Homo sapiens: one gene and its partners. The protein of the gene in region 5 purifies or fractionates together with the protein of the main gene of each other region. This does not show direct contact. Each region holds a gene or a part of one and is shown on either strand. Other genes may lie near its edges.

Region 1 (3,500 bases), on a different chromosome or scaffold from region 5:
CCCTGGGAGCACAGCTTCACTGGCTTTTTCTCTGGTCCCTGAGCATATCCTTTGGGAGATCTGACCTGAGTCCTTCATGCCACGAGAGGAACCATTTCTCTCCAGTCCGTCAGGAAGAGGGGTGGCAAGCCTTCCTACCCTGTGATGGACACAAAAGTCTATTTATAGTGCAGGGGGAAATGCAGGCAGTGGGTGCAGCAGGGCAGTGGTGACCATGCACTCTCTACCCAGATTGCCATGCAATCACTGTGGAATATCAAGGTGGCAGTGCTGGTCAAGCCAGAGCACGAGAACCGTATCAGCCATGTCAGTACGTCCAGTGTGAAGACTGGCATCGCCAACACCCTGGGTAAGTGGGGCTGGCAGGTGCCCAAGAGTGGCAGCGTCTCTCTGTCCATGGCTTCTGCTTCCTCTCAAGCCTAGGATTGCCCCATTTTTGGTGATCTTAGTTTCCCCATATATAGGGTACTTTGAACTTTGAAAAACATATTCATATTCTAAATCTCTCCCAGCACCACTGGGAAGGCAAGGCCAGGATAATTACCCCCTTTTCACAGATGATAAAACTCAAACCCAGAGTGGTTGAGTGACCTGCCCAAGGTCACACAGCAAGTAAGTGGTGGAGCCAGGCATTGTGCCCAGGTCTCCTGATTTTCGGTCTGGTGCTCTCCCAGGTAGATTCTGCGCAGAATCTGCAGGGCCTTTCAGCTTCACCCTTGGGGTCCCCTGTGATCTCCAGGGGCTCTGCTCACACATACAGACAGACTCAGGCCATCCACACAGACCATGTGTGCCCAATGAGGACCCCCCCCTCCCCCAGGGAAGGTGTGGGTGTGTGCAGGGGCCTGCCCATGTCACAGCGTCTGGTGGGCTCAGCGGGAGGATCCTCTCACTGCAGCTTTGAGAGGCAGAAGGGAGAGTTGGGAGCCCTCTGAGGATGACCCAGGCCTTCCTCTCTTGCTTGCCTTAACAGGGAACAAGGGGGCTGTGGGCGTCTCCTTCATGTTTAATGGCACCTCATTTGGCTTTGTGAATTGTCACCTCACCTCGGGAAATGAGAAGACGGCTCGGTGAGGGGGCGCCTTTCCCATGGTCTCTTTACACCCATCCCATTCACCTGAGGCCTGTTCCCGCTCCCATACCCTAGCCCATGACCCTCCCGCAGGCCTGTCTCCAGAGACCCCCTGCTCTCTTATCCCAATTCAAGACCCTTCTGTTCCTGACCCTAACCTTGTCCCCAGGGGCCCGGATCTTTACCCCATCCCTGACTCCTGAGACTTCTTCCCTTTATGCCTATCCCTGACTTCTGGCCCTGACCCTGGGGATCTACCCCTCCCCACCACGCACCCCTCACCCTAGGAGGAACCAAAACTACTTGGACATCCTGCGGCTGCTCTCGCTGGGCGACCGGCAGCTCAATGCCTTTGACATCTCTCTGCGTTTCACACACCTCTTCTGGTTTGGGGACCTCAACTACCGCCTGGACATGGATATCCAGGTGCGAGCAGGGCCCTGCCATGGCTGTAGGGAGGCTAAGGGCCACATGGGCTATCACCCCTGGCTCTGGCTCCGGAGGAATGTTTCTAGCCTTTGTGTCCTCCACCCCAGGAGATCCTGAACTACATCAGCAGGAAAGAGTTTGAGCCCCTCCTCAGGGTGGACCAGCTCAACCTGGAGCGGGAGAAGCACAAGGTCTTCCTTCGATTCAGTGAGTGTGGGCCTGGTAGGTGGTGATCTGAGGGCTAGGAGACTTGCAGTATCCCTGGGTGTCAGGGCCCTGAACCCCACCTGTCTCCTGCTTTCCTTAGGTGAGGAGGAGATCTCCTTCCCACCCACCTACCGCTATGAGCGGGGTTCCCGGGACACATATGCCTGGCACAAGCAGAAGCCAACTGGGGTGAGCCAAGAAAACGGCATGGGCCTTGGGGGACCGCAGGCCTGCGATGAATCAAGAATTTGGGTCAAGGGTATGGGCCTCTGCAGCTTCCACTCCAGCCTCCATGGCCCCTCTGAGGCCTTTGGGTGATCCTGGGTATTTTGAGGATCCAAGAAGGGAGGTGGGTGCTAGGGCCTCTAGTAATAGAAGTGTGGGGACTCATCAGCTCTGGAGTGGGGTCCATGCCAAGCAGCCTCCTAGCTGTCAGCTCTAACCATGCTGCCATCCCCTGCCCCAGGTCCGGACCAATGTGCCCTCATGGTGTGACCGGATTCTGTGGAAATCCTACCCTGAAACTCACATCATCTGCAATTCTTATGGTCAGAGCCTCCCGGACAGAGTGATGGGAGATCTGGGGTGGTCACCATCTGGACTCTGCCCTAACCTTGGGAGGTGGGAGCCGAGGGTGGGAATATTCCCCCTGAGTCCCCATTCCTATCCCCTCTCCCCAGGTTGCACTGATGACATCGTCACCAGCGACCATTCCCCCGTGTTTGGGACATTTGAGGTTGGAGTTACCTCCCAGTTCATCTCCAAGAAAGGTGACTGTTCCAGATATGCTTGTGGGTGTGGCATAATCTAGGTGGGCACAGGTGGTGGCCTCGGGATGTACATAGGTTTGACTATGTAAGTGTGTGTGTGGGTGTGTGTACCAGTGAGTGCAGGAGTGTTTCTCAAGGTGTGATGTGTCAGGGTGTCTGTGCGCCTGGGCCATCACAAGAGTTGTGTGCCCATGAGTGTGTGTGCATACGTGAGTGTACACCTATCTATGTGTCTGTGTCTGTCTAGGGCCACGTGTGTGTCCCTGAGTATGCCTGTAGGTGTGGGAATCCTGCAGGCATTCTGGTCCCCAGCACCCTCTTCAATGGGTTTTTTATCCTTGGGTTGTCTCTTTGCTCTGGTCCAGGGTCTGGCCTCTGGAGATTCCCTGTTGGTGGCTTGGGACTGGGGAGGCCCCTCCTGGCCCTGCCTCCTTGCTCTGGACCCCTGATTTCCTGTCCCAGGGCCCTGTTTCTCTGTCCCATTCCTCCTGTGATCCTCTCAGTCCTCCTGTTTGTTCTCCTCCCTTTCTCCTCAGGGCTCTCAAAGACTTCAGACCAGGCCTACATTGAGTTTGAGAGCATCGAGGCCATTGTGAAGACAGCCAGCCGCACCAAGTTCTTCATCGAGTTCTACTCTACCTGCCTGGAGGGTCAGAGGCGTGGCAGGGGCTGGGTGTGGGCCAAGGAGGATGGGAGGCAAGAGGGTGCAGTCAGCCCCCTACTTAGGGGGAAAGGAAGCTGAGAGGTGGTGCTCAGTTGGGTGTCTCCCACCCCCACCCCAGAATACAAGAAGAGCTTTGAGAATGATGCCCAGAGCAGTGACAACATCAACTTCCTCAAAGTGCAGTGGTCTTCACGCCAGCTGCCCACGGTGAGGCTGTGGGCAGGGCCCCTGCTTATGGGTGAGGGCACAGAGAGGGGTACATAAGAGTTTATTGGAGAGCCTGCCTGGGAGGGAGTGTGGGGCCAGCAGAGAGAGAGAGAGAGAGTGTGTGTGTGTGTGTGTGTGTGTGTGTGTGTAT
Region 2 (3,500 bases), on a different chromosome or scaffold from region 5:
TCGTACAAAGGACAGGAAATGAGGAACAGCTACATCATATACTGCTATGGATTACCATTTATATGGATCACTTAAATATGTTTTTAAGTGACAAAAGTAAGATGCAAATGGGTATGTGTAGTATGCCTTAAGAAGGCGGGACCATATAGTTATTTTTATATATTTATGTTTTTGAAAAACACTACGATAAAAAAAACAAAACTTAAGTGGTTATGTTGATTTCTTTTTCAGATCTTTTTTTATAGAAATACTGCTGTTTTTGTATGTAAATTTTGTAACCTGCAGCTTTACTGACTTTATCAGTCCTAAAGGTTTTTTTGATTGAGTCTTTAGGAACCACAGTTAATTATTATGCATATTTCAAAAATGCCAAAGAAGTATATTTTAATGTTTCACCGCAGAAAAAGACACATTGGTAGATGATGGATAGTTTTGTTAGCTTGACTGAATCTTTCTACAGTATACACATAGATTGAAACATCACATTGAACTTTATAAATATACACAATTATTATTTGACAATTAAAGTAATTGACAAATTATTTTTTAAATTTAATTTTAAAAAATTAAGAAATAAAAGTTTTGAAAGTGAAAGTGAGGGACGGAAACATGAGTTCTCCGAATGTACCTTGTTTATGTATTTCATTTAGGAACCATGTAAATGCTTTGCAGAACTGTAAAGCAGAGTTAAATAAAAATGAAGAGAAAAAACAGTTCCTAAAAATTGAAAGTGAAATGAAACAAATGAACCCATGTGTCACATTGATGGCTTAAGTACACAAATTGGAATTCTTGTAGGTCATTTGAGATGTAGTAATTTGTGTATCTCTCATAGCATGTAACTTAAGGTGAAAAACAGAAGTGTAAAGAAATTGTACGTTATTGACAGTGATCATATTGTTAGTAATAATACTGATATTGTCATTTTGACCAACCAAGTGGCCTGTTGGTTGGTCCTCTCTTCCTCCCTCATTTCTCCTGCCTCTCTTTTATAGTTTGGTCCAGGCTGAAGGCTGAGACAGCAGGATTGGCACTAGAGGGCAGTGGCTGCTTCCTCCTCCTGCCACACTGTCGCCTTCCCAGCCCTGTTCCATTTCCTCACTTCCACCCAAAGGCTTCTTCCTTCTGATAAAAGGGAGCTTGTCAGGAAAATGACTAACTGGATATGGTTGATTTAACGCTTCTTTCTATTTGCAGTTTTAGCTCTGTGTAGGCTGTGATCCACCCAACCCTTTTGGAGTAAGTTTAGAAAAGTAGGGAAAGTAGAAGCATGAACAGATTTTAAAGTGCATAGTCACGTGTGTATGTGTACATGTGAAATCCAACTTCCATTTTCTCAGCAGCATTGTTGTTAACAACCATTCCTTAGACCTGAACCATCAATACATTGTCACCCATTTATATGGCTAAAGCACCCGAACAAACTTTATATTGAAAAATACTCATATAAGACTCTTGTACTTAGAAAATGAACCCTCTAGTTCAGTGTCTTCCCTCTGGTTACTGTGGGACCACTCAAGGAACAGCTTGATGAGAAATGGATTGATTCATATAACTCCAGTAGCTTTTGAGCTAGTTCTAAATATATATGTGTGAGATTGCAAGTGGAGTCCTATATTGTAAACGTCTGCATTTTACAAAGTGCATTTAATGCTTATGCCAGCAGTTATTTAAAAAGTGTTATGTAGGGAGATAAGACTATAAACTATCATAGGTGCTATTATACCACCACAGGACTATTGAAAATAATTGCTGATTTATTTCTGTAGTTATGTAACAGAACTGTTACAGTTTTTAGATCAAAATTACCTCCAGCTTGGCATGTTTGCTCTGCTGCTTTTAGAAGCCATATGCTGCACATTAAGTCATTTTCACCTTGAACATGAGGACTAAACAAGCTATTCTTTTTTAAGAACATTAAGAAGTGCTTAAGCTGCTTGTCTGCAGGCATGGTTGGGAGCCATTGTCTCAAAGGAAGATGTGCAGGTGCAAACAGTGTTATATATTTGGAAGAGGTGGAAGAGGGGCAAAGGATTTATTAGGAAGCTTGATCCCAATTAAATTCCATCAAGAAATGTGTTGAGATTGTACCCTTGATAAGGATTGAACTAAGTAAAATGCTGATTTTATTCAGAAAGCAGCTTCACATTCTCCATTCTAGTTCACCCATTTTGGGGGTTAAATACCATCATATACTTGTGACTCTACTACGTATGCCTCTAGCCCAGACCTCTCCTTCATGCCCCAGACTTGTATATCCAACAACGTTCTAGACATACCCATTTAGATGGTTCACAGCCGTCTCAATCAGGTCCAAACAGAGCTCTTGATTTTCCCTTCCAAATCTCGCCTCCCTGTCTTCTCTATCAGGAAATGATAGCACCCATCATCAAGCTATTAAAGCCCCAATTGAGAAGATAGCTTTGACACCTCCCTTTCCTTCACCCATTCAAAAATAAGTCCTTTCAGTGTAAACTCCAAAATATACCTCACATAAGTGTACTTCTCCTTCTTTTCTGTACCTTTCCCAATCTCAACTACCATTGTTTCTTATCTGGGCTATGGTGTGGGCCTCCAGAATAGTCTCCACATTTCTGTACACTCCAGTTCATTCTCTGCAACTTTTTGAACAGAAATGAGATCATTTCCCACTTTAGATGCTCTGATGGCTTTTTTAGAATAAATTTCAAAAAACTTATTGTGGAATATATATAAAGCCTATGTAATTTGGCCCTGCCTCCTCCTGCTCTAATCATTACATTGAACAAAGTTGATTCCACTGGTATATGACCTCCTTTACTTGGTGTGTTTCATTATATATGATGTGTTATTTGAACCCCCCTTTTTTTATATTAGGTATGATTTTCAAGTACTAATTTTGAATTTTGTGTGTAGCTTTTGGAATCCCTCATAGTAATACTGCTGTCTGTGTGCCCCAGTACCCTGGTTTTCACGATTTTAGGTGTATACCATACTTTTTTTTTTTTTTAAGACTCACTCTGTCGCCAAGGCTGGAGTACAGTGGCACGATCACAGCTCACTGCAGCCTCTGTCTCCTGGGCTTAAGTGATCCTCCCACTACACCAACTAATTTTTAAAAAAATTTTTTTACAGACAAAGTCTCACTGTGTTGCCTAGGCTGGCCTAGAAATCCTGTGCTCAAGCAGTCCTCCTGTCTCAGCGTCCAAAATTGCTTAGATTAAAGCATGGGCCACCTCGCCTGGCCTACCATACATTTTTGTTCATGTCCATTTCTTTTTCTTAGGGTTATAGTAAGAATAAGGAAGAAATCTTGCAGAGATGTAATGATGTGTTCTTGCTTTTTTCCAGCTGGCCAAAGTGAGGGAAAAAGTGAAGGATGTGCCTGCCCTTGTGGCCAAATTTGATGAGATCTATGGGACACTGCACATCACTGGCCAGGTCACCACTGATTCTTTGGATGCTGTGCTCTGCCACACCCCCAGGGACAGGAAATCTCACACGTTGCTATTAAACAAGAG
Region 3 (3,500 bases), about 26 Mb from region 5:
CCCAGTGCTTAAGTTGTCTTATCTTCCAGACTCTCAAGTCACGAGCCTCCAGCCTATCTTTCTCTGAATCGGCTTAGTGTACATCTGCAAGAGCTCTGCCCGAACTCTAAGGTTGTGTCTACATTAGACTTAGCATTCCCTTCTGGCCATTCAGGGCTCGAAAATGATGTGTGTGGTTCTTCCCAAGTGTCCATTCATTTCTTTTTCACCAGCATCTTCCTTGCAGAGCAGATCTAAGTCTAGAATAGGTGCCCCTTGTTATTACTACCAGCTTCTGGAAGGGTTGCCAGTAAGGCGCAGTGAGAATACATCAGACGGAGTGGGCCCATCCCTGTTCTATCTTCCTCCTGGGACAGTTTTATGATCTCAGTCATCTTTTCTTTTCTTTTCTTTTTTTTTTTTTAATCTGGCCAGGAAGCTTGCTTTGTATTCCCACAACTTTCTATTTCTAGTCTCATTCTTGCCTCCCCCTCATCCTCTCCATTCGGCTGTCAGCCTCAGGTTATGGATTACAACTCCAGAGTGTGTATTCTTGACACTGGGAACATTAAAAACACCTCTTAGAAGATTTGAATTTTTAACATGAGGCCTCTCTAATTGTCTGTAGCTCTGTGGGGAACCATGCTACATAATCAGTTATAATTATCAGGCCAAATTTGCCTTGTGTTAAACCCCTAAGGTCATTCAGTTTCCCAGGTTCTGCAAATTTGTATGTCAACATTTAATAATACAAGTATCTCCTTTTGTTACCAGGCACTTTCTCTGGTAATCTTTCTATGACATAATCATTTCCACAGTTGTCAATGAGAATTTTTCCCTCTTTATTTTATTTATTTATTTTTTTTTTTTGAGATGGAGTTTTGCTCTTTTGCCCAGGCTGGAGTGAAGTGGCATGATTTCAGCTCACTGCAACCTCCACCCCCCAGGGTTCAAGTGATTCTCCTGCCTCAGCCTCCTGAGTAGCTGGTATTATAGGCACCCACCACCACACCCGGCTAATTTTTGTATTTTTAGTAGAGACGAGGTTTTACCATATTGGCCAGGCTGGTCTTGAACTCCTGACCTCAGGCGATCCACCCACCTCGACTTCCCAAGTACTAGGATTACAGGTGTGAGCCACCGCACCCGGCCCCCTCTTTAATTTTTAATTCAAAGGTATCCTGATATAAATACTTGCTATATGAATAAGATCTAGGTGACTACCATGTAGCAGATGCTAGGATGATAATGGCAAGCAATATAGCTATAGTCCCTTGCCCACATAGAGATCACTGTCTAAAAGAAAAGATGGACAAGTCAATGACAGTAATGAAACATGGTGACTGTGAAGGTAAGGCCCTTCAGGGGCTATGAGACCATAAAGCAGGGTCTTTAATGTAATTGGGGGTGGGTAGAGATCAAGGAAGATTTTCTTGGGGAAGTAACATTTAAAATGAGACTTGAAGGATGGGTCAAAGTTGGGTTGGCCAAGAAATTGGCAGGTGTTCGATATTCTCAATCTTTGTGAAATGTTCTCCATCCCTAACCAAAACCACTCTCTTTCTCTGCCTCAGCCTTCTTTTGGAATGAGGCAGAGAATAAATAAAATGAAGTATATTCCTAATTGGGAGCACATTATACTGGTAATCTTAAAACCATGGTTCTAAAAGCTAAATGCAGTTCAATATCATTTACATACCAAAGTTTTTGTTTTCTCTTTTCTAAGTCTTAAAATTTAGCTGGAAGATCAAATGGAAATCTTCTTTTTGTGTCTCCAGCCTTCATTTTCTTGGCCTGGATCTCATAGCCCTGGAGGGTTTTTCAGGGCTCCCCCTAGTGTCATGGTCTCCCCAGTGTTGGGAAGTGGTTAGTGGGAGAAAGTCTTGACAGGCTCCCTGCAGTAAGACAGAGTGATGTTCCAGAAGACAGTTCCACCCACAATGACCTCCTATACTTGAGATGGGCAAGACTCACTTCAAGATGCGCCTTTCTGGAGCCAGTAAAAGGTTCCACATCTGCTGTTGTTTTTGGGTCTTGTTCATTGCTGAACTGAATGGAGCTTTTCCATGCAGTCTGGATTCACCCTTTAAGTGCAAAGATGCTAGTGTTCCATTGCTTGGATGTCTTTTTTTCTTATATTTCTTGTCCATTAGCCACTGCTTTGAGAATAGTTTTATTCACCTCCTCTCACTTCCTGACTTCTTTTTGGTAGGTTCCTCAAGCCTTTCTAAGAATCTGCCCTCCTCTCCAGGCTGGAGTGTGGAGAAGAAGCTCTTAAGTGCTATCATCTTTCGCTCCATGGAGTGGCCAGCTTATATTTAGTAGTAAATATGAGTTACTATTTATAGCAACAAATCCTGAATTGTAAAAACTCGGGATAATTGGATTTTCTTTATTTATATAGCACCTGTTCAAATACAAATAGCAGTGGCCTAGAAATATTTTTAGGTTCTATCTGCTAAAAATGTTAACTTCAGCAGTTCGTAAAAGCATACAAAATATGTTTATTATTGGAGAATTTGGAAACCCAGAAAAACATGATTATGTATTCTTATTAACAGACTTTTTTGAAAAGATAGAGGATGTTTAACCAACAAGCTCTCAATACACTAAATCAGATGCCCTAAGTTACCTTGATTTCTAATAACCATCCAGGATAGCTTGCACTTGTGTTATGACCCAAAATTAATTATGTTCCTAACTTCCATAAGATATTACCTAGGACACTCAAGACTCTTCATCAAGATAGTTAAAAAGTTTTTGATAAAATAGCTAACTTATTTACAACTGCTTTAATATGCACTTTAATATACTGGGCCTTACATGTTATGGGAAAGGAGCTGAATAGTGCTATTTTTAACATTTTCCTTTTACATCTTAACAGTTACGAGCCTGAACTGTTTCCTGGTCTTATTTATAGAATGGTAAAACCACGAATTGTGTTGCTTATCTTTGTATCTGGAAAAGTTGTGTTGACAGGTAAGTGCTAAGATTATTTTCTGACTCATAAAATGTAATTGCTATGCATGTGCTTTGCTTATTCTTTTAAATACCTTTGTTCACCATGGTAAAGTAATTCTTGTTATACAGAATACCTGGAATGAAAAATAAGAAAGGAATAACATCACCCATAGGTCCCAGTACCTAAAACAACATTTTTTTCATGTTTTTATGTCATTTTATTAAGTATTTCATCTTTACATCCTGATTTTTTTACAGAATTATCCATGATAACATATATGGCTTAAACTTACTGTTACAAACTCTTCATAAAGGCTTTTAATGGCCACACAAGGTCCTAACACAGGGGTTAACAAACTCTTTTCTGGAAAGGGCCAAATACTAAATATTTTAAGCTTTGTGAGCCACAGGGTCTGTCACAATTACTGAGCACTGCCATCGTAGTGTGAAAGCAGCTCTGAATGTTACATTATATAAAGGAATGGGCTCTGAAATGTGAATTTCATATCGTGACATAATTTATGTGTGTTATGTAATATTTTTTCCCCAACTGCTGAAAA
Region 4 (3,500 bases), on a different chromosome or scaffold from region 5:
CCCAATTTCTATAACATTACTACATTATTATTGCTGTTACAGGTCAATATTTAAATAGACAAATTCTGACTTCATGAGCTTTACTCAGATGCTTATGACTGACTCATTTCTACCTTAGGTGACCCATCACATCTCTGAAAGTATGTTTCTCTACTTTGCAAGTGAGCAGAGACTAAATTATTTTATGAAGTATCACCCATCTAGTAGATGTAATTTTTTTTTCTTTAGAAATAAAGTGCTCTTTGCTTTTGCCCATTTTCCTATTGGGTTATCTATCTCTTCATTGACTTTGGGGATATCCAAATATATATACCAGTTAAAATTCTTTGTTGATCATGCTACCAATAACTTCACCCAGTTTGTTGCTTTACATCTTTTGAAGAACGGAAGTCTTTAAGTTTCAAATAGTCACATTTTATCCATTTTTTTCCTTCATGATTTGTGTTTTACATCTCCTACTTAAGAATCCTTTCCTACCTTAAGGTCACAGAGATATTTTGTACTTTTTAAATAAAGTCTTAGTATTTTGTCACATTTAAGTATATCATCTAATTAGAATTGATTGGGGGGTATGGTAAGATGTAGGGATCTAATCTTATCTTTCACATGTGGATAGCTCGTCATCCCATCACAATTTTTGGGGGGAAAATCAGAAAAAATTGTTTGGTTTTATTATTACTTTAAAATTTTTTTTATTGGTACCATAAATTATACATATTTATGAGGTACACTGATGTTTTCATGCATGCATATAATGTGTAATGATTAGGACAAATAAGAAAGAAATAAATAAAAATTAGGATAATTAGGATATCCATCACCTCAAACATTTCTTATTTTTTTGTGTTGGGATTATTAATTTTTTAACAGTTTAAATGCTTCAGTGAGGATCATTTATTATTGCCACATTGTGAGAAAATTCTGTCATTTATTATGTTTTTCATTCTTTCAGGTATTTGACAAAGAAGAGCTCTTAGAGTGTATTCAACAGCTTGTGAAATTGGATCAAGAATGGGTCCCATATTCAACATCTGCTAGTCTGTATATTCGTCCTACATTCATTGGAACTGAGGTGCAAACTGACTCTTTATTTTGGGGTACTTTGCTGGGCAAGTTATTATTGTTTATTGTTGTTTGAAACTTCTAGCATATAGTTTGCAGTAGCCCCCCAGTAGCATCATTAATGACTTCTTCCTTCTGATTGTCAAGATTAGAGGTAGCAAACATTTTCTGTGAAGCGCCAATCAGTAAATATTTTTTGGCTTTGTGGCCATATAGTTTCTAATAAGAAATTAGATCCCTACCTCTTACCATACCCCAAAATCAATTATAATTCGATTATATACTTAAATGTGACAAAATACTAAGACGTTTATTAAGAAATACAAAATATCTCTGTGACCTTAGGTAGGAAATGATTTTTTTTTTTTGAGGTCTCTCTCTGGTTTTTTTTTTTTGCCCACGTTGTCGCTTAGGCTGGGGTGCAGTGATGCAATCACGGCTGACTGCAGCTTTGACCTCCTGGGCTCAAGTGATCCTCCTGCCTCAGCTTCCCAAGTAGCTAGTACTACAGGCATGTGCTACCATGCCTAGCTAATTTTTAAATTTTTTGTAGAGATGATGTCTCACTCTGTTGTCCTGGCTGGTCTCAAACTCCTGGCCTCTAGCAATCCTCCCACCTTGGCCTCCCAAAGTCCTGGGATTACAGGCATGAGCCACTTCACCTGACCGGAGAGGATTCTTAAACTCTGCCATTTTAGTACTAAAGCAGCCATAGACAGCACATAAATGAGTAAATGCAGTGCTGTTTGCCTTGCCCAATTAAGACTAGTCATTATTTTCTAAGTTTACAAGTGCAGTGCCTCCCATTGTGGCAGTACTTCTCTGAGGTAGAAATGGTTTTAAAATTTAGGGGAGGGAGAGCTGCTAATTTTCATTTTCATGAGGTCTTGGGATTACTTGGCATGGAGTGAGAATGGAGGTTCCCCTTCCCACATAGAAAAATGGTGAAAATAAAGTTCACAGTGGGAGTTAAGGAAGGAAATTGAAGAGCTGGGATGGTAGGTTTAAATAACATGACCTTATGATTTCCTGGTGGGTCACAGTCTCTTGGTTGGGTGCCCTTGTGAATAAAGGCATGGATTGGGCATGCCTGGAGGGGCCAAGGCCTTTTGAGCGGACGAGTATGTTTATATGAAGACCCTGTCACCTGTCTCTGGTATCTGCTAGGCAGCTGTGGCTTGAGAGTGTGATATTGAGGGATAATTGATGGAAGGAGATTGAATGTGGCTGGCAGGTAAAGAGATAGGGAACATATGGAGATATTTAGAATAAGAGAGTGTGAGATAGAGCGCTTTTGCTATAGCCTAGCCATTCTGTTCTCTACTAAGTGTTGCGGGGTTACCAGGTTTTCTACTAGGCTGTATGAATGCAAAAGGTAGAGAGATATATAGGGCCATGGAATAAATACCGAAGTGTTTTCTTTGGTATCCTTGATACCTTTCGAAAGCCGTGTAAGGATCTAGATAATGAATTTCGTGAATTGCAGTCTCTCTGACAAGTTTTAAAGAATAGGAACAATTTTAAAAAGTCATCTACTTCCATAAGTTTTTTGACATTTTAAGATAATTGAATTTTTTTTTTTCAGCTTTTAAGTTCCAGGGTACATGTGCAGGTAGGTGTGTTATATAGGTAAATGTAAGCCATGGTGGTTTGCTGTACAAATCAACCCATCACCTAGGTATTAAGCCCAGCATCCATTAGCTATTCTTCCTGATGCTCTTCCTCCTCCCGCCCCTTCCGACAGACCCTAGTATGTGCTGCTCCCTGCATGTGCCCATGTGTTCTCATTGTTCAGCTCCCACTTATAAGAGAACATGCAGTGTTTGGTTTTCTTTTAATATTATTTTTAACTTTATGATAGGAAGGAGTACTTTTTAAAGTTGGTTGAAACATTGTTACTGATCTCAAAGCACTACCTTCCAGTTATTCTGAGATACTTTTTCAGTCTAAGATCTGATACTCCTATTCCTGGTTTGTTGAGAGTTTTTGTCATGAATGGATGTTGGATTTTGTCAATTGCTTTTTTTGAATCTCTTGACATGATTATGTGGTTTTGTACTTTATTACATTATTAATGAATGAATTATATCAATTTATTTTTGGATGTTAAATCAACCTTATTTTCCTAAGCTAAATCCTACTTGGTCATTGTGAATAATCCATTTTTTTATCTTGCTATATTCAGTTTGCTAATATTTTAAGAATTTTTGTTTCACTGTTCATGAAATATATTGATCTAGTTTTCATTTTTCTTTTCTTTCTTTTTTTTTTTTTTTTTTACATCTCCCTCCTCTTCCTCTTGATCTAGTTTTCTAATACAGCTGCACTCCAACTTACGATGGTCCTACTTAGGAGTTTTTGACTGTATGATGTTTGAAAACAATATGAGTTTAGTAGAAACTTACTTTGAGTACACATACCATTCTGTTTTTTTGCTT
Region 5 (3,500 bases):
GTTAGCCAGGATGGTCTCGATCTCCTGACCTTGTGATCCCCCCACCTCGGCCTCCCAAAGTGCTGGGATTACAGACATGAGCCACCGCTCCCGGCCGGGTCTCAGTAATTTGATAAATCGTCCTGAGATGAAAGAGTTTTAGAACTGCTGGTTTAGAAGTTGATTATTAGGCTCCTTTAAATCTATGTACAAATAAATAATCACAGTTAATAAATGTTAAGGAACATTTGTTGTGGTCTCATCCATTCAGCATAGGTGTCGAGGCTGCAACTTGGCAACCAGTTGCAAATCTTACCTTGATTGCGGTGATGAGGTAGGTCTTGGCGTATTTATTAATAGGTATCTACAGGAAACTTCTCTAGAATTTTCAATAAGAATATTCCTGTGTGAGGAGTTTGAGACCAGCCTGGCCAACATGGTGAAACCCTATGTCTACTAAAAATACAAAAATTAGCTGGGCATGGTGGTGCGTGCCTGTAATCCCAGCTACTGGGGAGGCTGAGGCAGGAGAATGGCTTGAACCCAGGAGGCGGGGGTTGCAGTGAGCCGAGATCATGCCACTACACTGCAGCCTGGGTGACAGATCAAGACTCTGTCTCAAAAAAAAAAAAAACAGAAAAACCCAAAAATATTTCCTGTGTGAGGTAGGAAAAATATATAGGTGTGAAACAGATGAGCAAATATTTATTTACCTTGAGAAAAATTACAGGTTACTAATAGTGAAGAGTAGGTATCTAAAAATACAAGTGTAAGAGTGCTAATTCCGAGACATGAGTTGGAAGAAGAACAATATAAATTGTTCAAGTAGCATGAAGTAACTGAGGGATGTGAATAATAAGAAAACAAGCTTCTTTTGATTCCTTAGTGTAACGTGGAATGAGTTTTTTGCAATTTATGTTATACTTTTATAATGGTTGTCCTTGTAGTTTTGTGACCTTGTATAGAAGATGCAGCATTTTTAGGTGTAGAAAATCAGTTCTAAAGATGTTAGGTAATTTTCTCTAGGTCAAACTAGTGGTCAGTCTAGATTGTTATCTACTCTCGCTTTTCACAATGAAAATCTGGAGAATTTTCCCTATCGTTAATAGTAGAATCAAGACATTCTCTCGAAGAGAATGAGCATCTTTGAGACCAAATGTTTCCACCTCCATTTTTGTTATATATGACTTTTTTAGTACATATTTTATAGGTAACACACTGATTTTTAGTTTAATGGTTAGTTTTTAAATGACAAAAAATGTGACCTACTCAATTTTGAATCCCCAGCTTCTACCACGATGTCTGGGCATATGTGGTTGGCATTCAGTAAGTATTTGATTGAAGTGTTTGATAATAGATACGGCACCTGAATCTAACTGAACAAAATAGTGTAATATTCTTGTTGTTTTTAAATGGGCCATACTCTTCTATCTGGGTTGTATTGGAGTTAAAAATAAAACGGTTAGACTAAAATGAGTTTGTTATTTTAATTCTCTGCACTGAATTTCTTCAGGATCTCATTAGAATTTCTAGAATATGCCCTAGATTTAACAGCTGGACAGCCAGCATTGTCCAATAGAACTTTCTGCAGTGATGAAAGTGTTCTGTACCTGTGCTCTTCAGTATGGTAGCCACTAGCCACATGTGCTTATTAAGCACTCAAAATGTGGTTGGTGGAACTGAGGAACTGAATTTTTATTAATCTAAACTTAAATCACTACATATGGCTAGTTGCTGCCATATTGGACTGCTCAGGTTTAGACATTCTTGCTTAATAAAACGAACTTTAATTTCATATTTTATGGTTTAGAAAGCCTGTCATTAGCTCTAGCCCCTCTCCCTACTTTCTGGGGCCATTTTACAAACTTATCAAAAGCTTGTATAAGGCTGTAAAGGAGGCAGTGGTGAATTAGATTGAGAACAAAGATGAATGATGAGAATGCATGTAATTTGAGGGTTAATGAGGTAAGCAGAAAGGGAGATGATAAGAATATTTCAACCCAATCTTTGAGGTTATCTTTTGAAACACTGCAGGCCTACTTTAATGTGTAAACTGTGAGAGGTAGAAAAAACACAATAAAATACAGCCCTGGTTTTCAGTAAATCTATATTCGAATGTAAATGTGTTTTGGATTGGTGAGTGTCTGTGGGTGGGAATGACACTGTAGAAATTCTCTTCAAAGTGAATGATAAAATCAACCTGATTTCTAGATTTTCCAACCTACCTATGTCCAAATGTCAAGTACTGTGGGAGATATAAAACATTTTCTCTCTTTTTAATAAAACAAATGAGAAGAGTTGCCTCAATTGGAAGTATATCTGAAATTCAGTTTATCTGCCTCTGGTTCAGATTTCTCAACACTGGCATTATTGACATTTTGCACTGGTTAATTCTTTGTTGCAGGGGCTGTCCTATTGATTGTAGAATGTTAGCAGCACAACTGGCCTCTGCCCACTAGATGCCAGTAGCACTCTTCAGTTGTAACCAAAAATGTCTCTAGACATTGCCAGATGTCGCCGGGGGCCAAAATCACCTCTGGCTGAGAACCACTATTCTAAATATACTCTAGTTATATATATATATATATATATATATATATATATAAAGTACTTGATACACTCTAATTATGTGTAAATATTTGGACCATAAGTTGAATAATAATCTACTATTTCATTTCATTTATTCTTAGGGAAAGCTCTGTTTCTACAGCATTATTTCTTGGGAACCTAGAAGTGTAATATATTTTATCCAGGAGCTAGATGTTTTGTGAAAGTAGGAGAATCCTTCAGAATTTCTAGCCCACCATGTTGCCAGGTTTAGCCACCTAACCTCTGGGCTTGTGATGTGACGGGCTGCAGTGAAGGTCTCTGATGTGGCCTGGAGACATTTTCTCCATGGTCTTGGGGATTAACAGTAGGGGAGTGATAAGGGGATTAACTTGGGGAGCAGTAGGTCTCATCACATTTTATAGGTGAGAAAGTAGACTTGGAATGTGCTTTGACAAGGTCGTTTAGCTAATAAATGGTAGAGCCATGAACCTAGCCCTTTTGCCTCTATGTGACATATACAGTACTTAGCAGTAAGCAGGAAGGTAACAGAGTTTTGACTAGATCTTGGGTTGTTGGTGAATGGCACCTGAGATGGTTTTGATGGTCGGTGACCTGCTCTGATAGCAGCAGTCTAGTTTAGAGACTAGGAATTTGGACTAGTACTGGGATTAAAGGGAGGCAAGTGAGGGTCCTGGGGTACAGAATGCAGAGACATTCACTCTCTAGCCCTGACTGGGACATTGAAGTCAGACCACCTGGGTTATATCCCTATTCTGTCTGCCATTAGAGTGATCTTGAATAAGCTACCTAACTTCTTTCTTGTCAGATTCTTTTTCTGTAAAAGGGAGATAATAATGTCTATCTTATAGGATTTTTGTGAAAAAACTAGTTTGTACATGTATTTATAAAGTACACAGAATTTAGTAAGTTTTAGTTATTAGTCAACACAATATACAAATGTATACCTGAAT
Region 6 (3,500 bases), on a different chromosome or scaffold from region 5:
GCTGAAGCAGGAGAATGGCTTGAAAGCGGAAGGCAGAGGTTGCAGTGAGCTGAAATCATGCCACTGCACTCCAGCCTGGGCAACAGAGTGCGACTCCGTCTCAAAAAAAAAAGAAAAAGAAAGAAAACAGATTCTTGAGTGGGGATGGTGTCAGTGGTTTACACCTGGGTCTGATGGAAACATCTCTGTTCCAGGCCGAGACGCATCCAGAGCTTTCGTGACCGGGGACTGTTCTGAAGCAGGCCTCGTGGATGACGTATCCGACCTGTCAGCCGCTGAGATGCTGACACTTCACAATTGGCTTTCATTCTATGAGAAGAATTATGTGTGTGTTGGTAAGTCGTCCATAGGTCATACATTTCATTTGGTTGTCTGCAGTGTTTTTAGGGGGCTGAGATTTTTTAGGGATTGGGTTCAAGCTTAAAATCTGAAAAACAGCCATGGATTTGTTTTACTTTAAATTCTGGTCGTTAGAATAGGGATGAGCCGCCCAGAAGGAGATGGATGGGCACCTGCTTCCCCCACTCTTAGTCTTGGGAGAGGATTACTAAGCTGCTTGCTTTGGCCTCAGTTTCGCCATAGCCAGTGGTTGCTTGCACCATCCTTGAACAACCAGCTCCAGAAGGGCAGCTTCCCTGTCTCACTGTGTTCGATGCATCTGGCTTCAGCACACAGCCAGAAGGGCTTGAAGCCTGAATTTGTGTTTCGACAAATCCCCTTTTATTTGGTCCTCTAGGAGGAGACAAACTTCGTGAGTGAGCTGTCTCCCAGGTGGTAGTTATGCTAATCAAACCACTGTGTAGGTTACTGCACTTGCTACTTACTGATGCTACATAAGGGACTTGCTTCTCAAATGAGACAACACCAAACTGTGTCCTAAAGCAGTGTTAAAGACTCTAAACACTAGGCCCGGCGCAGTGGCTCACGACTGTAATACCAGCACTTTGGGAGGCTGAGGCGGTTGGATCACTTGAGGTCAGGAGTTCAAGACCAGCCTGGCCAACATGGTGAAACCCTGTCTCTACTAAAAAATACAAAAATTACCTGGGCGTGGTGGCACGCACCTGTACTCCCAGCTACTCAGGAGGCTGAGGCAGGAGAATCGCTTCAGCCCGGGAGATGGAGGTTGCAGTGACCTGAGATTGCGCTACTGCACTCCAGCCTCAACGAAAGACACTAAACACTAGATTGCTTCACAAGTACTGACAACTGGGATGGCCGTAGCCCTTTCTTCTATCTATCTGCAGCCCCCACGTCTCACTGGAGTCCTACTTGGACATGACTGACTTCCTGAGGAACACCAGTATCACTTCACCATCGAAACAGGTCTAACTTGGAAGAATTCTTTCCTTAATGCCTCTGAATTTCTGCTTCTGTCATCACTGCTTGAGTTACCTTTTCTGAGAACCTTGGCATTTTTATTAACACCTCAGCTCCCTCCACATCCAATCAATCATGGCTTTTTCATAATATCTAAAGTTTGTGTCCATCCATTGTGGGCCTCTGCAGCACGCCTTTCTTCATTTTCTCTCGTATGCCCAAGATCAGTCTTGAGACCATAACCCTGTCTACCATCGAAGGCACTGACCTCTACTCACCTGCGCTTCAGAGGGCTGGGTTCTTCCCTTTCCCAATGAAGTTGCCAAACCAAGGTTGAAACATTACTGGGTTAATAAAGAAAAGAAAACCCAATAGAAAAGAATAAGAGCCAGGAGTGGTCTCTCACACCTGTAATCCTAACACTTTGGGAGGCCGAGGTGGGCGGATCACCACCTGAGGTCAGGAGTTCAAGACCAGCCTGGCCAACATGGTGAAACCCTGTCTCTATTAAAATACAAAAATTAGCCGGGCATGATGGCAGGTGCCTGTAATCCCAGCTACTCAGGAGGCTGAGACGGGAGAATTGCTTAAACCTGGAAGACGGAGGTTGCAGTGAGCCAAGATCGCACCACTACACTCCAGCCTGGGTGGCTGAGTGAGACTCTGTCTCAAAAAAAAAGAAAAAAAAGAAAAAGAATAAGAATGGAGTCCAGACCGGTGGCTCATGCCTGTAATCCCAGCACTTTGGGAGGCTGAGGTGGTCGGATCAGTTGAGGTCAGGAGTTCAAGACCAGCCTGACCAACATGGCAAAACCATGTCTCTACTATAAATACAAAAAATTAGCTGGGTGTGGTGGGACACACCTGTAATCCCAGCTACTCAGGAGGCTGAAGCATGAGAATCACTTGAACCTGGAAGGCAGAGGTTGCGATAAGCCGAGATCACATCACTGCATTCCAGCCTGGGCAACGGAGTGAGACCCTGTCTCAAAAAAAAAAAAAAAAGAACAGAGTCCTGTAAATGGGCAAAGAATGCCAGGCCAAATACTTCATACTAAGATTTGGGAGCACACTGGAAGTGTTCGGATGCGTTTGGTGTGACAAGTGAGCTGGTCTTGTTTGAATGATGTATAATGTGTTGAGGATGGGGTGGGGCATGTGGCGGGAAATGCCTCAGAAGGATTTTAGTTGATGTCAGGATCTTATTGAATACCTACTACTCATAAGTTACGGGTTCCATCCTCAGGGGGACCAGGGATGAATTGAGTCCAGTTCCTGCCCCTGTTAGCTCATTCTGTAGGATAGGGGCCATGTTAGGCTCTTTCAGGTTACCAGAAACCCTCAGGATACATCAGTGGATGAAGGTTTATTGTAAGGGTACATACTGAAGTGAGGACAGCCAGGAAGCCATCTTGGCAGCCAACATGGCCAGGCCTCAAGGGAAAACAAGATGGCCTTGGTTATGCTGTGGATACAGGATTGGCTTGGAGATGCAGCCACTGGTGATCACCATTCTCATGACACAGATTCTAGAACTCTTCCTCTGTTGCCTCTGCTACTACTGTCCTCTCTTTGGGTCTCATGTCAGAAACTCACCAAAGACAGGCTTGTCACCATATAACACAGACACCCCAACCCCCGTAGTGGGAAATTCTGTGCCAGGCCAACTCATAGACTGCAGGCCTGTGACTCGGGCCCTGATTCCTTTCTTTATTCATCTAATAAGTATTTAAAATGAATGCTCTATGCTAAGCTGTTTTATTTATTTATATATTTTTTCAGATGGAGTCTTGCTTTGTCACCCAGGCTGGAGTGCAGTGGCACGACTGCAGCTCACTGCAACCTCCAACTTCTAGGTTCAAGCAGTTCTCCTGCCTCAGCCTCCTGGGTAGCTGGGATTACAGGCATGCACCACCACGCCCAGCAAATTTTTGTATTTTTAGTAGAGACAGGGTTTCACCATGTTGGCCTGGCTGGTCTCGAACCCCTGACCTCAAGTGATCTGCCCGCCTCAGCCTCCCAAAGTGCTGGGATTACAGGTGTGAGCCGCTGCGCCTGGCGCTAAGCTGTTCTGAGTACTGCGCCTCACTAGTAGAGAGAGCCATCATAGACAAGTAAACAGATTGAACAACTCCACATAGGACCATGCATCAAACTGTGATGTAATACGTTTGGGAGCT
Region 7 (2,947 bases), on a different chromosome or scaffold from region 5:
TGTCTATTTAAATCAGGAGCTGCAGGCAGAAATTCTTATCTGGAAGTTCTTCTGAAGTTGGCAGACAAATACAAAAAGAAAATGTGGGGGTAAGTTACTGAGCTTACTGTCTGAGTGTCATCTGAACAGCTGATTATAGGCTTTCTTGAGAGTGGTTCCCCCGTGTTTTTGTAAGCTGTGTTCTATGTTTGCTCTGCTATATGTTTTTTTTTTTTTTCCCTCCTGCCTCAGCCTCCCAAGTAGCTGGGATTATAGGCGCCCGCCACCACACCCAGCTAATTTTTGTATTTTTAGTAGGGTCAGGGTTTCACCATGTTGTCTAGGCTGGTCTCAAAACTCCTGACCTCAAGTGATCCACCTGCCTCCACCTCCCAAAGTCCTGGGATTACAGGTGTAAGCCACCGCACCCGGCCTGCTCTGCTATATGTTTTTATTCAGGATGTGAAAACTTTATCATGGGAGGAAAAGAAGGAATGAAGGGCTGTCAGCACAGCATGCATTTTTCTCATAGGAATCATGTTTTACATGGTGATTGGAGTGCCAGGTTAGCAGGCAGACACATAAGGAGTAGTGCACCTGAATTCTACTGTGAACTTGAAGGCTGGGTGAGAAAGGGGAAATAGAATTGTTTCCTTCTCCTCTTCTGAGTTAAGGACTGGATCTAGGCACATTTTCAAAACAGTGTATCTCTTTCCTATTTTATCCTTTTTTTTTTTTTTTGAGACAGAGTCTCACTCTCTTGCCCAGGGTGGAGTGCAGTGGCACAATCTCGGCTTACTGCAACCTCCGCCTCCCGGGTTCAAAAGATCCTCCTGCCTTAGCCTCCTGCGTAGCTGGGACTACAGGCGCACGCCACCATGCCCGGCTAATTTTTGTGATTTTAGTAGAGATGGGGTTTGCACCATATTGGTCAGGCTGGTCTCGAACTCCTGACCTCAGGTGATCCACCTATCTTGGCCTCCCAAAGTGCTGGGATCACAGGCGTGAGCCACCGTGCCCAGCCTCCTTCCTATTTATCTTTTTGCTTCTTGTCCTCAGTATCCATTGCTTTCCCCAGGTACCTAGCGCCCCCTGTTGTCCCTCTCTCGATGACCTTGCTCCTCCTCCATTAGTCCAGCAAATGTTTATTAGATGCCTACAGAACGCGAGAACATGCTTAATAACCCAAATGATATTGGTGGGATTTCAGGTAAAAAGGGAAAATCCATATAGAAACTCATCTTTTGTTTTTATTTGTCATTCTACGAAATATCTGAAGCGTGATCTTTTGTTCTCTAAGATCTTCTAGTTAGATCGTAAGCAATTTAAAAGACATATTTGCCCTAAAAACCAGTCTGGTTTTCTAGGTGGCTGTGGACAGAAGCTGGAGCCCAGTCTGAACTTGAGACCGCGTTGGGGATTGGAGGGTTTGGGTACCCCGCCATGGCCGCCATCAATGCACGCAAGATGAAATTTGCTCTGCTAAAAGGCTCCTTCAGTGAGCAAGGCATCAACGAGTTTCTCAGGTAATTTGTTTTCTTAGGTTGTTTGTTGTTTTGTCTGTTTGTTTGGTTCTGTTGTAGGTTTATATTTGGAACTAGGTATATATAAGCCAGGTAATAAATGGAATTTAAAATGCAAACTAATTCCAGAGAATTGAATGTTTATACATTAGAGTTTTTAAATTGTCTCCCTGTTCGTTCTTTTTTCCATGGAATACTCTGCTTGCGGGATGAGGAGAAAGCATTGCTACCCTCGGGCCGCCCTGTGTGCCATTCTGTGCATCTGGCCCTGGGCTCTTTCTCATTCTCATAAAGGTCTCATATGGGCTAGAGGCAGCCCTGTCTGTCCATCCTCACCCTCATATGCATTGTAATCTTGACCTTGGGGAAATGTGGTTTCCATTTCTGGGCACTTGGCTTTGGAATGTAGTTATTTATTTGAAAATGGGCGTACTTAAGTTACTCCAACAATGTGCAAACAACATGATAGGTTCTAAAACCAATATACAGAGCTGTCTACTCTGCTCTGCTATTCAGCTCACCTAATCATCTTTTAGGCAATACAGGGCATTGACCTAAAGAGGTTTTATTTCCCATTCTTGCTTTCTTCCGCGTTCATTTCTTAGCTGCTGTATAAGAGATGTTCAGCACACAAAAGGTAGTTGAGAGGCTTGTGTTGAATAATGAATAGGAAGAACAGTACATGAAAGCCTGCAGTGCTCTTGCTGCCAGTCTTCCTACTTGACACAGAAGTTTGTGTGCTGTGTGGAGACGTGTGTGTGTGCTGTGTGGAGAGTAGGGGCTCCAAAGTCAGGTGCCTCAGTCACAGCTCTGCCTTGAGTAGTGAAGTGGGAGGCATGGAGGAAGCCCTGTGAGATCAGCTGCTTCAGCCTCTGCCGGCGGGGGGCAGACTGTGGCTCCTTCCCTCCCAGCTCTCTCTCATTGTAGTTGGTTAATATGGTTAATGGGTGTTTTCTTTCCCCCCCACCCCCGAGACAGAGTCTTGCTGTGTCGTCCGGGCTGGCACGATCTCGGCTCACTGCAACCTCCACCTCCCGGGTTCAAGTGATTCTCCTGCCTCAGCCTCCTGAGTAGCTGGGATTACAGGCGCCTGCCACCACGCCCAGCTAATTTTTGTATTTTTAGTAGAGATGGGTTTTCACCAGGTTGGCCAGGCGGGTCTCAAACCCCTGACCTCAAGTGATCCACCCACCTCAGCCTCCCAAAATGCTGGGATTACAGGTGTGAGCCACCACGCCTGGCCAAGGGGGTGTTTTCATTAAGTTTGTGGGGCTGGGTGCGGTGGCTCACGCCTGTAATTCCAACACTTTGGGAGTCTGAGGCAGGCGGATCACTTGAGGCCAGGAGTTCGAGACCAGGCTGGCCACCACGGTGAGACCTTATGTCTACTAAAAATACAAAAAATAGGCCAGGTGTGGTGTTGTAGGCCTGCAGTCCTAGCTACT

What was found.
Region 1: the proteins of GTF2A1 (region 5) and INPPL1 purify together in Homo sapiens (affinity purification with mass spectrometry; 3 studies listed by BioGRID and IntAct, with this or other methods). This does not show direct contact.
Region 2: the proteins of GTF2A1 (region 5) and PTCD2 purify together in Homo sapiens (affinity purification with mass spectrometry; 3 studies listed by BioGRID and IntAct, with this or other methods). This does not show direct contact.
Region 3: the proteins of GTF2A1 (region 5) and TBPL2 purify together in Homo sapiens (affinity purification with mass spectrometry, with the first as the bait; one large-scale study listed by BioGRID). This does not show direct contact.
Region 4: the proteins of GTF2A1 (region 5) and BCAT1 purify together in Homo sapiens (affinity purification with mass spectrometry; 2 studies listed by BioGRID and IntAct, with this or other methods). This does not show direct contact.
Region 6: the proteins of GTF2A1 (region 5) and CYB5D2 purify together in Homo sapiens (co-immunoprecipitation; one large-scale study listed by IntAct). This does not show direct contact.
Region 7: the proteins of GTF2A1 (region 5) and PDIA6 fractionate together in Homo sapiens (co-fractionation; one large-scale study listed by BioGRID). This does not show direct contact.

Annotation. Positions count from the first base shown.
Region 1 is NC_000011.10:72,231,267-72,234,766, forward strand, and holds part of INPPL1 (phosphatidylinositol 3,4,5-trisphosphate 5-phosphatase 2), read left to right. Parts: intron 1-231; coding exon 232-349; intron 350-973; coding exon 974-1,070; intron 1,071-1,359; coding exon 1,360-1,498; intron 1,499-1,608; coding exon 1,609-1,708; intron 1,709-1,808; coding exon 1,809-1,897; intron 1,898-2,174; coding exon 2,175-2,256; intron 2,257-2,388; coding exon 2,389-2,478; intron 2,479-3,014; coding exon 3,015-3,128; intron 3,129-3,260; coding exon 3,261-3,349; intron 3,350-3,500. UniProt on the Homo sapiens protein: Phosphatidylinositol (PtdIns) phosphatase that specifically hydrolyzes the 5-phosphate of phosphatidylinositol-3,4,5-trisphosphate (PtdIns(3,4,5)P3) to produce PtdIns(3,4)P2, thereby negatively regulating the PI3K (phosphoinositide 3-kinase) pathways.
Region 2 is NC_000005.10:72,354,873-72,358,372, forward strand, and holds part of PTCD2 (pentatricopeptide repeat-containing protein 2, mitochondrial), read left to right. Parts: intron 1-3,330; coding exon 3,331-3,500. UniProt on the Homo sapiens protein: Involved in mitochondrial RNA maturation and mitochondrial respiratory chain function.
Region 3 is NC_000014.9:55,423,617-55,427,116, reverse strand, and holds part of TBPL2 (TATA box-binding protein-like 2), read left to right. Parts: intron 1-2,863; coding exon 2,864-2,958; intron 2,959-3,032; exon of another isoform or gene 3,033-3,074; intron 3,075-3,500. UniProt on the Homo sapiens protein: Transcription factor required in complex with TAF3 for the differentiation of myoblasts into myocytes. The complex replaces TFIID at specific promoters at an early stage in the differentiation process.
Region 4 is NC_000012.12:24,876,102-24,879,601, reverse strand, and holds part of BCAT1 (branched-chain-amino-acid aminotransferase, cytosolic), read left to right. Parts: intron 1-952; coding exon 953-1,072; intron 1,073-2,647; coding exon of another isoform or gene 2,648-2,674; intron 2,675-3,500.
Region 5 is NC_000014.9:81,210,960-81,214,459, reverse strand, and holds part of GTF2A1 (transcription initiation factor IIA subunit 1), read left to right. Parts: intron 1-3,500. UniProt on the Homo sapiens protein: TFIIA is a component of the transcription machinery of RNA polymerase II and plays an important role in transcriptional activation. TFIIA in a complex with TBP mediates transcriptional activity.
Region 6 is NC_000017.11:4,149,697-4,153,196, forward strand, and holds part of CYB5D2 (neuferricin isoform 1 precursor), read left to right. Parts: intron 1-194; coding exon 195-335; intron 336-3,500. UniProt on the Homo sapiens protein: Heme-binding protein which promotes neuronal but not astrocyte differentiation.
Region 7 is NC_000002.12:10,785,839-10,788,785, reverse strand, and holds part of PDIA6 (protein disulfide-isomerase A6 isoform d precursor), read left to right. Parts: intron 1-16; coding exon 17-89; intron 90-1,346; coding exon 1,347-1,505; intron 1,506-2,947. UniProt on the Homo sapiens protein: May function as a chaperone that inhibits aggregation of misfolded proteins. Negatively regulates the unfolded protein response (UPR) through binding to UPR sensors such as ERN1, which in turn inactivates ERN1 signaling.